Linked DNA regions of Homo sapiens: region 1 is linked to region 2. A link means that fine-mapping ties the variant in region 2 to the expression of a gene that starts in the linked region. Tissue or cell type: whole blood. Region 2 holds a variant in brackets; the other region holds the start of a gene. All regions are shown on one strand. Distances are between the middles of the regions. Region 1 holds the start of SNHG26 (small nucleolar RNA host gene 26). Region 2 overlaps HYCC1 (hyccin PI4KA lipid kinase complex subunit 1).

Region 1 (4,511 bases), 88 kb before region 2:
ATCCCATTAGCCTAGTCTACTTCACATGTGCTCAGGACACTTACATTACACTACAGTTAGACAAAACAATTGAACACAAAACCTATTTTAGAATAAAGTGTTGAATATCTCATGTAATTTATTGAACACTGTACCGAAAGTGAAAAACAGAATGGTTGTACGGATACTTGAAGCACACTTTCTACTGAGCTACGTATTGCTTTTGCACCATCACAAAGTAAAAAAAAAAAAAAAAAACATAAATCAAACCATTGTAAGTCAGGGAATATCTGTAGTTCACCACATGTGTGAAAGACAAGTCAAATGGACAGCAAGAAAAGGAAATTCAGTAGGTTTTATCAAGCATTTACAATGTGCAAAGCCCTAGGCCAGGTACTGGGAATACAGGAATAAATTCACACTCAAGGTGACCCAAGGAAGCTACCGCCTGGGATAAAACCCCACTACTGCCCCATTATCAGCCTTGAAGAGTTTTATGGTATGAATATTGAACTGCTTTGGGGGAATAATCTCTTCCTCTGATAAGGATATTTAGATAAGGAGTTTTTCCCCTTATCTAAATATATTCTAGGCGTTTACACTGAATTCGGGGGATTCAGTAGAGAAGGAAACAGAGTTCTCATGGAGCCTACATTGCACCATCATGGCAACTCTGCATGACAACACCCTAAGACCAGCTCCACCCACCAGAGAATAATCCTAGATGACCTATTAAAGTCCCCTGCACTCTATTATCCTATGATTTTTCTGTAACTCTCTTGGCCTCTTTGCTTCTTTCCTCTCCTAAATTTCATGCAGCATATGAGTTTCCTGCTGGTCATGCTACACTCATTGTACTAATAGGTACCTCTTCCTTCTGGAAGCCTTTCCTGTAGCCTTAGCAGGCTGGGCTTTGTGGCTTTATGCTGTGCCCTTGGCACTCTTCATGGGCTTCTATCAGTGGGTGAATCTCATTTTATATTCCTCACTTTAGTGCAGGGGCAGTTTCTCATTGAACTTCACACCCTCCAACACCAATCACAGCACCTGGCATAGAATAGGCACTCAATAAGTATTTGCTGCACTGAGCAATCTGTAGGGGCCAACATGGAAAGTTTTCCCTTTGCCCTCTTAAGGTTCACTAAAAAATCAACTTGCAAAAGGCAGATTAATTGGAGAAAAAGCATATAAATGTATTTAATGTGTATACCCGGGATCCTTCAAATGAAGACCCAAAGATACAGGGGAAATTATCCATTTTTATGCCTAGGTTCAACAAAGTATGGGCAGTGACGTAGAAATGTGATCGGACAAAAAGTGTATGATCTAAGACTAATAGAGGGAGAAAACCCAGCAAGGCCTGTCTGTCTGGATTCTTCTTGGCCTCTCTGAGCATGCACTCTTTCCTTCTGGGTATGGGACAGGACTCCCTCTGGAATGGGGGTCTTATGACCTACAGTCAAACAAGGGAAGTCAAATAATGTCTTTATGGCCAGATTTTACACAGAACGGCAGAGGGAAAGTCCCCACAGTCCTTGTATTAATTCCCTAGGGATGCCTTAACAAAGCACTCGGTGACTTAACAGAAATGTTTTGTCTCACATTTCTTGTGACTAGAAGTCCAAAATCAAAGTGTCAGCAGAACCAAACACCAAGCTCCCTCTGAAATCTGCAGGGGAGGGTCCTTCCTTGCCTCTTCCTAGCCTTTCTCCGGTGGTGGCCGGCAATCCACCGCATTCCTGGGCTTACAGCTGCATCACTCTGATCTGCCCCTGTCCCGCCACATTTTCGTGTGTCTCTGTCTTCAAGTGGCATTTTGACACCGTGTGATAAGGACATCAGTCATGTTGAATTAGGAGGGTCCACCCCAATGATCTCGTCTTGACCACATCTGTAAAGACGCAGTTTTTCCAAGTTAGGTCGCATTCACAGGTGCTGGAGGTTAGGTCTTCAATGTCTTTGGGAGTGGGGACAAATTCAGTCCTTAACACTCATGTTCTATATGTAGTGCTGCTTAGGCATCCAGCCAACAGACCTGCTTATTTTACTGCAGTCAGAATACCTTCTCCCCTTCCTCCTCACAGTCCAATGACACAGACGTGCTTTGGGGGCAAGATATTTGCGGGCCGTGGCCATCATTCTAAGCATGCAGCACTCCAGGCACCAGGAGTCCTCCCCGTGCTTCAACCCCTCTTCGATGAGTTTGCACCCCCGACCTCCGCTAATGTTCACATCCTTTAACGGGAGCCAGTCTTCTGCTACGTAATTAGACGAGTCTTGAAAGAAGCACCCAGGGGCGTGGCTGAAGACTTTAAGAAACACCAGGCAAGGGAGGGGAGTGGGTACCAGAGACACCTAACATTATTTGAGTGGCAGGAGCTTCCTCTGACCTTCAACGAGGTAAAGAGACATCACAGCCAGCGAGAGTTTGGGGCAGACTCCCCAGACTCGGAGGCCGGGGCAAAGTGGGAGCCGGGGCCAAGTGGGAGCCGGGGCCGTGTGGGGTGGGGGGGGGGGCCCAAGGCGGGGAAGGCCCGGGCCGCCGACAGGGGGCGCGCGAGGGCCTCCGGGCCCCGCGGGCGGGGCGGGTGCTGGACCCGGAGGGGCCTTCCGGCAACTTTTTGGTTGGTGCCGCCCCGCCCAGGCCCCTTTTAAACTTGATCTCCGCAGTGCCCTCCCTTTTCGGCCGCGGCGCGTGACTGGGTAAGTGGGCTCGGACCTTCTGGACGCAGGAGCCGACCACGTGGCTCCGGGGCTACCCCGTGCGCTTCCTAGGCGCGCCTCTCGCTGCCCCCACGCCGAGGCCTCGGCTCGGCGCCGCGGGGAAGCCTCCGTTAGGGCCCCTCGGGGGTGGGGGCGTCCTCGTGGCGCTTGGGCCCTTCGTCCCGGGTTAGGACGGCCCGTGTCCTTGTGCGCTTGAAGGGGCCGCCCCCTTTCCTCGAGGATCCCACCCCCACTCAGCAGAAGCCGCCAGGCGCCCGTCACCTCCCGTGCCTGAGTCCCTGCCGTCCACGCATTCGGCCTACAGGCAGCTTTTAGTCCTTTTTCAATTAAATGATTGCATTTTGAGGATCAAATTCCAACCGCAGGCGGAGGCGCCGAGCCCCGGACGGTCTCTGGGTTCTTGGTGCACTCGGGGCTCCTGCCTGCCCAGGGGCTGTGACCGCGCGGACGGAAGCCTATTTGGGAAGCGAGTGAGATCTGATGTCTGAAGCGCTTTAAGTTTCTAAGCGGGGCAGTATAATAGCGGGGTTAGCAAACACACGGAGGTCATTTCACTCGCGCAGCCATCCCCCACCGCCACCAGTGCCGTTCATTTGCTACTGGCCCGCAGTCAGATAATTTAAAGGCTTGGAGGGACGAGTCTTGCTGGAGCCGACGCCTACAGTAAGTTGAGCGGAGTGCTGTGAGCCCTAATAAGGGAGCCTGCTTTCCTCCCGAAGATTCGCTTTTTTGGGAGTGGCCAGAGCGTTATTACAGCACAGGGCCCGCTTCCAACGTTTAATCAGGGTGTGAGGAGGCCCTTCGTGGTTTTCTGACCTGGGAAAAGTCTGAACTACTGGGTTCTTTCTGGCTTGGACCAGGACAAGGTGTTGAACGCCTAACTTAGGTCTACTAAGGTGTAGAAATACGCAAGGCTGCCCCTAGAGAACGTTTGTCTGGGGAATAATGTAAGTTTTTGGAGCGGCTCTCCTGAGCATCGCTGAGCATACTAATTGTTCATTACTGGTACAAAATGCTATATAAAGGGATACTTTGCGAATTTAGTAAAATTGATAAAGATCTAAATTTACATTTGAGTCAACAAATAATCTTTGTGGCTAGCATAGGTACCACAGTTCTGTTGGAATGTGAAGCTCGTGGTTCACCTGTTTTCCTCAGTTGTGAAAGATTTGCTGCCTTTTTGATGAAACCAAATGGGACCCATTTTACCATTCTTTAATGAGGAAAGCTTGTACATTTGCAGCCTAGGTTCTAGGCATCTTTTATCCAGCGTTATAGATAGACCCAGAGCATGGACAATTTTCCCTCCCTGGAATACCTCCAGCTCTGGCGAATAGCCCTATATACAGCACAGGAAGATAGCGGTGGTAAGGCTTTGTTTTACCATTGCTTTAGGTGTTAGAGATTCTTATTGAGCCCATTTTATTTTTATTTTATTTTATTTATTTTTTTGAGTCGGAGACTCGCTCTGTCACCCAGGCTGTGGTGCAACGGCGCAATCTCGGCTCACTGCAACCTCTGCCTCCCGGGTTCAAGAAATTCTCCTGCCTCAGCCTCCTGAGTAGCTGGGATTACAGGTGCCCGCCACCATGCCCAACTGTTTGTATTTTTTAGTAGAGACGGGGTGTCACCTTGTTGGCCAGGCTGGTCTTGAACTCCTGAGCTGGTGATTCGCCAGCCTCAGCCTCCCAAAGTGCTGGGATTACAGGCGTGAGTCAGCGCACCCGGCCTGCCAAATTGTTTTTTAACTATTCAGTTTAAACTGTGAGAGACACCATGTCAAGGAAGCAGTGTGAGCTAGCGTCTAA
Region 2 (4,000 bases):
CCACTCAGCAGCTAGGTGACCTTAGCCAAGTCCTCTACCCTATTGAGAGCTTCAGTTTCCTCTTCTGTAAAATGGGGATTCTATGCACTTTATAGGATGATTTTGAGGATAAGATGATCATTTTAATTACACATATTAGCTACCACTACTATCACAATAACATAATGCAAAGAAAATAATAACTACAACTGGTTGTAAAAAATCTTTCTCTACAATTATAAAACAGTTATCTTGATATTAACAAAGTCGGGTTGTAGGAGGTGAGTCAGCTATGTGGACTACTGGAGTTACTGGAAGAGTGCATATTGTATAGGACAAAATACTGCTTACAAAATCACCACTCTGGTTCTCTACAAGTACCCTTCTAAGAGTAGTTAAGAACACATTTCCTAAATTACTTAGTTCCTTAGATGAAATGGAATTAACCAAACATATAATCAACTACAAGCCAGGAATTTTTTCAAGTGTCTAATAGGTTAATAGGTTCTGTTTTTTTTTTTTTTTTTTTTTTTTTTTTTTTTTGAGATAGAGTCTCACTCTGTTGCCCAGGCTGGAGTACAGTGGCATGATCTCGGCTCACTGCAGCCTCCGCCTCCCAGATTCAAGTGATTCTCCTGCCTCAGCCTCCTGAGTAGCTGGGACTACAGGTGCCCGCCACTATGCCTGGCTAATTTTTGTATTTTTAGTAGAGATGGGGTTTCGCCATGTTGGTCAGGCTGGTCTTGAACTCCTGACTTCAGGTGATCCACCCACCTCGGCCTCCCAAAAGGCTGGGATTACAGGTGTGAGCCACCGCACCCAGCCATAAGTTCTTTTTTCTAAGTACATGCTATAATGCAATTCATGTAATGCCACTGAGATTTCCTAAAGCCAACAAACAAAATTCTAAAATTGTACTGTTAAAGAAAACACTGAAGACTTATCCTTGATTCTTTTCCAAAGCTAACATCAACCTAACTCATTTATTGTCTCATAAATGTCTAGATACCTACCACGCACAAAGTCCTATCTAGGTACTAGGGGCATATAATCTCTGTACTCAAGAGATATAGACTCTTTCTTCTTCTTTTGCTTTTTTTTTTTTTTTAAGAGATAAGATCTCGTTATATTGCCCAGGCTGGTCTCAAATTCCTGGGCTCGAGTGAACCTCCTGAGTAGTTGGGACTACTACTCACCACACATGGCAATAAAGATTCTAAAGTTAGAAGGACAAAGTGATGTTACCTAAATTTGCCTGTGCTTCTGATATGACAAATAATCCGCCACTGGTGCATGGCCCATAGAGCTCATCTTCATCTTTGGATGAATACGAGTGGACCTGTCATACTCCTCAGCCCTATGACATGTAAAGCACAAAGCCAGGAATGAGGTCATTGTCTTATCACTTACCCCCAAAAGCTCTCAATGGCTCAACTTACCTAAGTCTTCCTCCTTTATTCTCTTCCTTCATATCAAAACTTCTGCAAATTTTTATAATAATTTTTTAAATGAGTAAACTGATCTGGAAAAAATATTTTTTTCAGTTTTTATTTCAATAAAACAAGAGGCAACACTTGTTGTATAAAGTACTACATATGGAGAACATTTACACAAATATACAAAAATTCAAAAAACTAAACTCCAGTTTATTTCCATAGCCTTAAGAAGGTAGGGAACACACAAAAATAGCCAAAGTCGTCGTTTATTCTTTAGGAATGTAAACTCTAGGAATACAATTAGAAACAAATATATTTACTATGAAAAGATTAGTATCACTAAATGATTAGAAATAAAGGTAAGAGGTACACAATAAGTTCCATATAAGAGAAAGCAACAATACGTGAAATAAAATCTTGGGTTTATGGTAAAAACTTCCTATTAAGACAAATGTACTCTAAAACTCTACTATAAAAAAACACAAAAACATCTCCCAAAATGTTCGTTGTTAGTTTCTTTAGATATGCACAAGTTACAAAGTATAGAAGACAATATATTTATGCTCTCTGATGAAGAATTTAACAATATTAAACATAAATCTGAATAACTCAAAGTACTGAGTATAATTTTACTAAGCAACAAATGTAGAAGTATAAATTCATGCTCATTAAA[G/A]GACTAGAGAGTTTTAATTTTTCATACAAAGACTGGGAGGACACTATTATACATTAATTTCTATCTACAATGCTTAAAGTACCCATCAAATTATTTTTCTTTTTAAGTGGTTTTTAAAAAATATTTTTCAGTTACATTATTCAACATGTATATATTTCCTTGATGTGCTTCCCTTTAATACAGATTTATTGTGCCTAAACGCAAATGTTAACCTGCCTTATTTTAAATATTTGTTTAAAATTATGTCTCAGAGTACATCTGTTCTCTGTAATTCAACAGTTTTAACATTTTAGTTTTATTCTTCCAAAATAGGCAAAATCCCTTAAAACTGGGATCATTTTGATCTATTTTGGTTTTAAAAATATATTTCCCTTTAATTCAACTTTTTAAAAAAATGAGTAATATTTGCTGAGCAGTTGCTTCACAATTGAAAAGAGCAATGAAATATTGCTTTTTCAAAACAAACTTCAGGCATCATTTAAATGCCGAGAATTCCAACTCTTCAAGTCTTGAGAGCTTGCCTTAAAAATTTCCATAGTGGTATACAAAGGACTCCAGGGTGCTTTCCTGTGGCTTCAGGAAGGGAAGGGAAGACATTTGCCCTGGGTAGTCTGGGACAGTCCCTTGAAAAGTCTATTTTTGTTTCTCTCCCCACTTGGATTCCAAAAAGCTAGTGCTGGCTCCAGTGCCACCAGAATACTCCAGGCCGTTGGGTTTTCAAATGTGAGAGGTTGGGTGATTTCAAGAATCTATAGAGATTTAAAATGTGCAATGAAGCCACAATTTCTGTTCAGATCCTCTGAAATATGGGGTGCAAGACCCCAATTTTGTGTGGAATCCTTCTCATGATAAAAATATTATTCTGGATACTTAGGAGATCTGTGACCATCAGCATCTTTATAAGAAAGTGACCTACAAAAGCTACCCCAATTTTCAAATTTGAAAGTTCAGTGGGGAGAAAGTAGTATGGATAATAGTAATGGTTACCATAGTTAAGATTATCCAATTTTCATAATTTCTATAAAAACTTTCAATGTGTAATCCTTATTTGAAATAGTATCAAAGGAACTATAAAAGAATTTTGTTGTTAACGTAACTCCGCTCTCCAGAAAATCAATTAGTGCAAATCATTTGAAGCAAAAAATCAGAACCATTTCACTGAGCAAGTCTTCAGAGATTTTTTAAAAAGAATATACAAATGCAAATTTGTTGTGCAGTATATAAAAGGGTGGCACCCCTTTTCACACTTAAAATTTCAGGCATTTACAGCTCTGATTCCATTTATAGTTAACAAGAAAAATATAAAGTGTTACTTTTTTACTGCAAAAATAAGGATCATTAGCAATCTAGAATTCAAATACTTAAGAAGCCATATGTCAATATTATTAAACTAATTAATTAGCTGTCAAAACCAATGAAGATTATAATGATCTAGTGTCTGACACATTTGATCTAGGGCTGTGAGACCACTGGGAATTCTACATATTAGACGAGTAATTTGTTTGCACTCTGATACTTTCTTCTCATAAAAATCACTTGGGAACCTTGTTAAGAATGCAAATTCTGATTTAGTAGACCTAGAGTGGCATGAAATTCTGCATTTTTAACAAGATACCAGATAATGCCAATCCTACTTACTGGTCCTCAGACCACACAGCTAGCAAAGGTCTAGAGAGGTCTAAATGAGGTTCCATTACAGTGATAGAACATGAAAATCTGATCTCTCAGCTCTGTCAGCTAACATTTCCCCAAACTTATTCTACAATGTTTCCTAAGCACCTCAACTTGCTTAAAATGCCAATCTTAAAATGCCAAATTAGTTTTTAATAATACCAATACTATTAATAACTATGCACAGGGGAAATTCATTGTTAAAGAATGACAAAAAGACATCTGTAAATTCACAGTGATA

What was found. PIP is the estimated chance that this variant, and not a neighbour inherited with it, causes the effect. A credible set is the group of variants that fine-mapping cannot tell apart.
Region 1: SNHG26 starts here. The variant in region 2 is the best candidate, but not a certain one, in a credible set for the expression of SNHG26 in whole blood (INTERVAL, PIP 0.50).

What each region holds. Positions count from the first base shown.
Region 1 is chr7:22,851,599-22,856,109 of GRCh38, forward strand. It overlaps SNHG26 (small nucleolar RNA host gene 26), which reads left to right and starts at 2,642. Exons shown (of 5, transcript NR_146320.1): 1 at 2,642-2,682. RefSeq lists a silencer at 2,457-2,916 and enhancers at 3,014-3,625, 3,417-3,646.
Region 2 is chr7:22,939,748-22,943,747 of GRCh38, forward strand. It overlaps HYCC1 (hyccin PI4KA lipid kinase complex subunit 1), which reads right to left. Exons shown (of 11, transcript NM_032581.4): 11 at 1-4,000. Among named protein-coding and RNA genes, the nearest start is that of HYCC1, 72 kb to the right of the region's middle. The variant G/A (reference allele first, on the strand shown) is at 2,089.